2 linked regions of the Homo sapiens genome follow. The protein of the gene in region 1 interacts with the protein of each later gene in a biochemical or structural test. Each region holds a gene or a part of one and is shown on either strand. Other genes may lie near its edges.

Region 1 (3,940 bases):
TAGGTTGCAATGCAAATTACAGACAAACACAGACCAAGCAAAGTGCCAACATATGGGAGAATTTCGTCTGGAGGACCCAAGGGATTTTGCCTGCCCCCCAACCTCCCTCCCCGCCCCCACCACCTCCCACTCCGCCGCAACCCCGGGCTTCGCTTCTGGACCACCCAGAAACAAGGCCCAAGACTCTGGGACGCTCTCGCCTGGCAGGCCAGGAGGGAGGGATGGCGGGATTGGAGCCCTCGGGGAGGAGCCGGGGCCGTGCCCTGGACAGCTTGGTCACCAGCAATGGAAGGACGAAGCCCAAGTCAGGACCGCTGAAAGTGGGGAGGAAGGGGTTACGGCCACAGCGCCCCCTCCCCCTTCCCGACCTCCTTCCCGGCCGTCACGTGGCGCGTGGCTGGGGCGGGGGCCGCGGCGGCGGAAGGGGGTGGTCCGGGTGGGGAAAGGGAAGGGACACGGCCGGCTGGGGGAAGCGCTGGGCGCTGCGGCGTAACCATGACGACTGGGCCTGAGGCGGCGCGTGAAGTCACCAGGACAAGATTAGCCCCGGATCACGTGAGCGCGACGTGGGGGCGGGGCTGTGCCTGGGCCCCGCCCCTGACCTGGGCCGGCCCAGGTGGCTGGTTGCCGGGATGGCTGCGAGGATCTTAGGTGCGGACCCCCACCCAGCGGTCTGCCCCATCTGTGTTCCCTTCCTTCCCCTGCCCCCGCATGCAGAGAGATCTTCGGCTGAGGCGTCTGGTGTTGGCAGGAGGGGACTTGTGGGGTTGGCATTGGGGGTGCAGTACCACAGGGAAGGAAAGCAGGAAATGAGAGAAAGGGAGACAGGGCACAGAAAAGGCGAAAGGTACAGCTAGGAAGGAGGAAGGAGCTGAGACATATACAGACACCGGAGCAGCGTCAAGCGGAGTCAACCCCGAGAAGGATGGCTTGAAAAGCTGTTTGGAAAAGCAGAGGACCCTGAGAAAATGGAGATGAAAGGGGAGTGAGAAACACGGAGAACACCCATCTCCTTTTCTGTCTAGAAGCCGAGCTTTGAGTAGGCACAGCACCTGGCTTTTTAAAGGAATTTTTCAGCCGTCATCTGGTTGTTTGACGACTAGGTGGTTTAGGCATAGAAAGGGTGACATGCTCAGAGACACTTGCAGCCAGCCGAGCCTCCCTCCAGTTCACCAGGCTTCCCCAGAGGCCCTTCTGGTATCCAGGGCCAGCAGCTGGGGAGAGAAGGAGAGAAGCCATTTCACCTGTTTGTCTTTTACGGTAGTGGGGATAGCTGAAGAAGTAGGAGATGGGACCAAGGGAAAGATCTCAGGCTAGTTGACGGCTCTTCCACATTGACCTGGAGTGAGGGAAAGCTGCTGCCCCTGGGAGCTATAGTAAAGTGGAGATTCCTCTCTCCCAACACACACACACATACCCCTTTTTGTTTCCTTTATTTCTGACCTGCCAGCTGTGTCCCACTGCCCCCTGGCTGGGCCTTGGCGCCAGAGCTTTGGAGGGGCGTCTAGGATGGCTAGGAGCCCCTGGCCCAGACGTTCAGTCACCCTGGGGGAGGGTAGCTGTCTCTCCGTTATCAATTATGCAGAGCATGGGGGAAGGGCAGCAATGTGACAGGAGGGTGGGTCTCTCTGTCACTCACTGTCAACCATATCTACCAAGTGTTGATGGTGCTTCTGCCTCACATTGGGTGAGGGGACAGAATGATCTCTAAGCCATACATGTGCCAGGGGAGGAGGCTCTTTGGACACCCAACAGGCCCTAATTCAGTGCTTTGCTGGTGGCCCCAAAGTGACTCCATAAGGAGGCTACAGGGTAGAGTGGGGTAGGAAGTCACCCCCCATCTATCCCACCTTCTAGGTTCTCTGGCCTGAGATTTTGGAAGCCTGTGGCAGGTAAACTCTCTGAATTCTCTCTAGCTCCTTCTTGTATAACAGCAGAATGTCAATGCTAAGCTGTTTGGTGGTCTTAGGGGCTCAGTTCAGAGGCCAGGTCATCTGCCTAAATCTTGGGCTCTCACACTGAGTGCTCTCCACTGTCTGAGACCTCATTTTTTTACTCAGGAAAAGGAGAATGATTCCCTTTCTCTCGTGAGTGGGGGTAGGAAGGGGAGTCTTCAAAGGGAAAGGAGACCCAAGACTTTGGAGTCCTAATTCCACCTCTGCAAGCTTTGAAACCCTGAGAGGATAAAGGTCTCTGATCAATCGTGGCCATGCCTCCTGTCCCCTTGGCTGCAGCTCGTATTGTTTTTGAAACAGGGTCTCGCTTTGTTGCCCAGGCTGGAGTGCAGTGGGATGATCACGGCTCACTGCCTGCAGCCTCAACCTCCTGGGCTCAAGTGATCCTCCCCCTTCAGCCTCCTGAGTAGCTGGGACTACAGGCACTCACCACCACACCAGACTAAATTAAAAAAAGGCCGAGCACAGTGGCTCACGTCTGTAGTCCCAGCACTTTGGGAGGCCCAGGCGGGCGGATCATGAGGTCAGGAGATGGAGACCATCCTGGCTACCATGGGGAAACCCCGTCTCTACTAAAAATACAAAAAATTAGCTGGGCGTGGTGGCGGACGCCTGTAGTCCCAGCTACTCGGGAGGCTGAGGCAGGAGAATGGCGTGAACCCAGGGGGCGGAGCCTGCAGTGAGCCGAGATGGAGCCACTGCACTCCAGCCTAGGCGACAGAGCAATACTCTGTCTCCAAAAAAAAAAAAAAAAAAAAAAAAAAAAGGCCAGGCGCAGTTGCTCACGCCTGTAATCCCAGCAATGGAGACCATCCTGGCTAACATGGTGAAACCCCGTTTCTACCAAAAATACAAAAAATTTGCCAGGCGTAGTGGTGGGCGCACCTGTAGTCCGCCGCCACTGCACTCTAGCCTGGGCAACAGAGCGAGACTCCATCTCAAAAAAAAAAAAAAAAAAAAAAAAAAATTGTAGAGACCATGTCTCATTCTGTTGCCCAGGCTGGTTCCAAACTCCTGGGCTCAAATGATCCACCAGTCTAGGTCTCCCAAAATGCTGGCATTACAGGTGTGAACCACTGTGCCCTGCAGCTTGTTTTTATTTTCCATTTTTCAGGATCCGCAGTCCTGGCCCCAGGATCCCAAGAGGAAAAGAACTATTGCTTTTCTTAGTGCCCTCATGAGGGAGAAATGAGTTCCCCTGAGAACTTGGGGGAAAACTGGAGATCACCCCTAAATTCGGGTCTTTGATTGGTAAATCAAGCCCTGAGACCCCTAGCTGCCACACTTCCAGTGGGGTGGGCAGTGAAGGGGTTCAGGGAAGGGAGGGACAGTACTATTTAGGAAAAAAGAATCAGCTTCAGATTTGGAGAGATCAGAGCTAGAATCCCAGTTTTGCCACCACTTAGTTTAAGGAATGTAATCTCTCTGTGGTGCCCAACCCACCCTGCTGGGGGTAGTGAAGGTTAAGTAGGGTGATAGAGGGGGTGCAGGGAGCAGCATGTTTCCTCCTTGCTTTGTCTTCCTGGTTGGCTGGACACCAGGTCTTTGTGGATCCTGGAGAGGCTGAAGACTTGGTCTCTGACCTTCTGCTTTCCCAGGATAAACTGTGATTTCAGGTTCCAGTAGAACCAGGTCACAGTGCTAGTGATTGTGCTGGAGTCCCCAGTCATTCCTCTACCAGATCACCAGTCCCTCCTCTGTAAATCCTGCCATTCTGTCTCCTCTGGACTAAGGGGGATGGCCTGATTTTCTGCACCCCATCCTCACTCCCTGGCCAGTTGTCTCTGGAATCTGCTCTCTTAAGCAGCTGTACTGCTAAGATCCTCCCTTTGATCACGTGGCCCTGGATCACCCCTCAGCCTTACCCATGGAGGCCTCGGGGAAGGGGAGGGCAAGAGCAGGGTAGGATGGGCCTCAGGAGTCCCTCCTACCTAGGACCTCAGATAGACCAGGAAGAAGTTCAGCGGATGTTAACAAATATAGTT
Region 2 (3,600 bases), on another chromosome or scaffold:
GTATTTTTAGTAGAGACAGGGTTTCACCACGTTGGCCAGGCTGGTCACTAACTCCTGACCTCACGTAATCCACCCGCCTTGGCCTCCCAAAGTGCTGGGATTACAGGTGTGAGCCAACATCCCCAGCCTTCTTTAATATATGTTATTTATAATATTGGATGTGTGTGTGTGTGTGTGTGTGTGTGTGTGTGTGTGTGTGTGTTTAAATTAATTTTCTAGTAGTTGCCTAATCTGTAGTGCTGCTTCTAGGATTTCTATTAAAAGAATATATATTAAATTCTTATTAAAGGCCAGTTATGATGGCTCATAATTAAGATGCCCTAGGAGCAACAAGAGCTGGGTGGGCTACTGATTTCCAGATGGGAATCTGGCCATGTTTATAAGACCTGGACTTGAAGATATTGGGCAGCCAACGAGGCCCATGGAGGAGAATTCTGGCGGGCTCTCCACTGAAGTACACCTACCTGCTCTCACCTTCAATTTGCCTTTAATGCCTCTCCACTTGATGTTTACGGCTAGCCACTTTTAGGATCTGAGCCATCAAGATGATGGATGAAATTGGGTTTGGAACAAGAAGGCAGGGCTATTTTGACCCAGGACACATTTCCAACATGCTGTGAAGAACTCTCAGCATCAAATAACATCTGGGTGGAAGAAGTTTTGGGAAAGAAGTCTAGCTGTAGATCACACAATGCTTCTAAATGGGAGAAAATGTCCAGCTCCATGGCTTAGATTCTTTGGGAAGTAGGATAACTGGCTATTCCATTTTAGGCAAGGCTGCCTGGCCAGAAACCCATGTCTTACCATTTCGAGTACATTATGGTTGGCTTACAAATCGTAGCCTCATAGAGAACTTTTTCTTCTTTTAGCTACTGTCTTCCTAAAATAAAAGTCTCTGTGCAAAGCAATGGAAGAAACCTCATATTGTTTTTTGGGGTTGTCATTTTATGTAACTTACAATAATGACTACGGCTCGTCTTATACAAGATGTAAAGGATTTGGGAGAGGGAATCCAGTGTGCATTTAGGGGAAGATGGTGATGTAGATAGCATATTTCAGGAGGCTGGGAAGTGTCGAGTGCTTAAATATATGCTTCTCAAATTTAATGGGCATACAAATTACCTGGTGGTATTATTAAAATGTAACCTCTAATTCAGTAGTTTTGGGATGGGTCCATGGACAGCACTTTGGTTAGTTCCCCTTGGGACTCCCCTTTCCCCTCAGAGAAGTGTAGAGGGTTGGGGTATTGGGCTTAAGAGGAGTTCCAGACTGTAACCATAGCTCTAGGTAACTCCCTTCTGGAAGTGATGTGTTAGCGACTGGAGGAGAAAGGGATCCCTGGGATCCTTTTCAGCTTTACTATTCTGATTTGGGGTTCTGAGATTCCAACAAAGTGGACTTTTGGGAGTCACAGACCTCCATGGGAATGATGAAAGCTGCGTACCTTCTTTCCGCACAAATGCAGGCCCACCTTTAATTCTGCAAACCACTTTAGGCCCCGCGGGCCCGCAGCCCTGGTCCAAGACAGCTGTCTGCTTCACAGGTCGCGCACCCAGAGCCGGGCGGTTCTGCAGCTCAGCATCTGGCCCGGGCTGCGCGTCGGGCTCTGGCGGGGGCGTGTCAGGAGGCGTGTCCGGGGCGTGTCGGAGGCGGGGCCAAGGCGGGGGTAAGCCTCGCCCCTCGGCCGTGCGAGAGGCCGAGCTTGCTGCATTGCAGCCGCCGCGGCGCCGCTCGGCTCTTCACTCCCAACAATGGCGGCTCCGAGCCCGAGCGGCGGCGGCGGCTCCGGGGGCGGCAGCGGCAGCGGCACCCCCGGCCCCGTAGGGTCCCCGGCGCCAGGCCACCCGGCCGTCAGCAGCATGCAGGGTAAGGAACGCGGCCGCGCCGAGATCCCAGCCCCCTAGCGCGGCAACCCGCGTCGTCGCGGCCTGCCCCAGCGGACGCCCCCGGACCCGGCTGAGGAAGCCACGGCAGCCGCCGGCTTCTCCCTCTCTCCCTCCCCGGCTTCCCGCCCCGCTCCCGGCCGCCTCCGGCCCGGCTTGGATCCGGGCTCCGGCCCGCATAGGCCCCGGCCGCGGCCTCTGCCTGCGCTTGGCCCCTGGGCCCTACCGGGCTCTCAGCAGGCCCGCAGGGCCCACCTGGTCCGGGACCGCCCCCGCGGCCGTCCCCATCGCCCCCGCCGCTTACCTGGCGCCCGCCCGGCCCCCGTTTCCGGGAACGCGCCGGCTCGGGGCTGCGGCGGAGCGGGAGGGGCGTCGGGCCTGCCCCCTGGTCCCTGACGCCGCTCAGGTAGGCGGCGAAGACAGCGGCCCCGGCCGGCGCCCCTCGGCCCCGCCGCCGCAGTGGGCCCCGCTCAGGGCCATCTTGGCTGTCGCCGGGCACAGCTGGAGCCGGACCACCGAGCTGACCTCGGGCTACGGGGGCCTCTTGGAACCTGCGTTTTCAAACTTTTGCAGGGTTTCTGTGCGCTGGAAGGGATGGGGGTGGGGGGCGGGTTGCCCAGGCCTGTGCCACCTGTAAGGTAGGTAGGCTGCATTGGCCTGGGAGAGGCATTTTGTTCCAGGCCAGGGATTTCTGTGTTAGCATTGCGTGCAGGAAGAAAAAAAAAAAAAAAAAAAAAGAAGACTTAATTTGGTTTAAATGGAGAGATACAGGAAATAGACAGGGGTCAAAGTGATACTGTAGTGTCTGGACATTTGAGGCAGCTCTGCTAATTAATGACTTTCCCCACTGGGAATGCTTATTAGCTGTGTATGGCTTTTGACAGGGGGTGTTGTGAAAATACCAGGCCAGGCCCGAGCCTGTTAGGGACCATTTCCTTAAATTTACTGGGGAATTTTGAGTAGTAATGCTATTTTTAAAACAGGGAATCTCAGAACTCTCTTGACAACTTTAGCAAACTGCTTGTGTTGAATTATTAACAGAATAAGGGTTGGGGTACCCTTGGTAGTCAGTGTGACCATGGTTACTTTTTGATTCCATTCCTCTTAAAGGGCTTCTAGCATTTAGTTAGGTTCAACAGACATTTATTGAATAGTTCATGTTTATAGAGCATGCCATAATTCAGAAAGAAGAGACAGGATTTTATTTATCTTTACATCCCTGTCACCCTCCCCATGAAATAATTTTAATATACATAAAAACCAGTGATAGATATATAGACAGGATGATGTCAGAGCTTAGAGGACACTTTCTGTGCAGGCCCTCAGATAATTCATTCAAATTGAATTAGTTATTGGATGCCCACTGTGTTGCACAGCACATTATACTGATGAAGTATAAGATTGACTTCCTGACTGTACAGCTTTACAATTTAGGTGGTGGTGGTTGGGGCGAAATGAAATGGCAAAATGACAATTTAGGATTGTATTTCTTGTTCCAGATGGGTGACTTACAAAGCTTATAAAAACAAGGTGATTTGTTTGTTTGTTTTATTGGTGGGGAGGCTGACAGTTTGAAATAGCTGGATACAGTGTGTTTTTTTGGTTCAAAAAATATTTATTGAGCATCTGCATAAAACGCTCATGCTGAGTTTATAGAGAATTGAACATCTCTAACTGTCCTCATGGAGGTTATCCCCCTGTGAAGATGGGGGAGGGA

What was found. The genes of interacting proteins can lie anywhere in the genome.
Region 2: of the proteins of MAP3K12 (region 1) and MAP2K4, one has a biochemical effect on the other in vitro, tested with the Homo sapiens proteins (one study listed by BioGRID).

Annotation. Positions count from the first base shown.
Region 1 is NC_000012.12:53,492,647-53,496,586, forward strand, and holds part of MAP3K12 (mitogen-activated protein kinase kinase kinase 12), read right to left. Parts: intron 2,292-3,940; exon of another isoform or gene 1,053-2,291; intron 425-1,052; exon of another isoform or gene 369-424; intron 1-368.
Region 2 is NC_000017.11:12,019,136-12,022,735, forward strand, and holds the start of MAP2K4 (dual specificity mitogen-activated protein kinase kinase 4), read left to right. Parts: upstream 1-1,741; 5' UTR 1,742-1,751; coding exon 1,752-1,866; intron 1,867-2,187; exon of another isoform or gene 2,188-2,392; intron 2,393-3,600. UniProt on the Homo sapiens protein: Dual specificity protein kinase which acts as an essential component of the MAP kinase signal transduction pathway. Essential component of the stress-activated protein kinase/c-Jun N-terminal kinase (SAP/JNK) signaling pathway.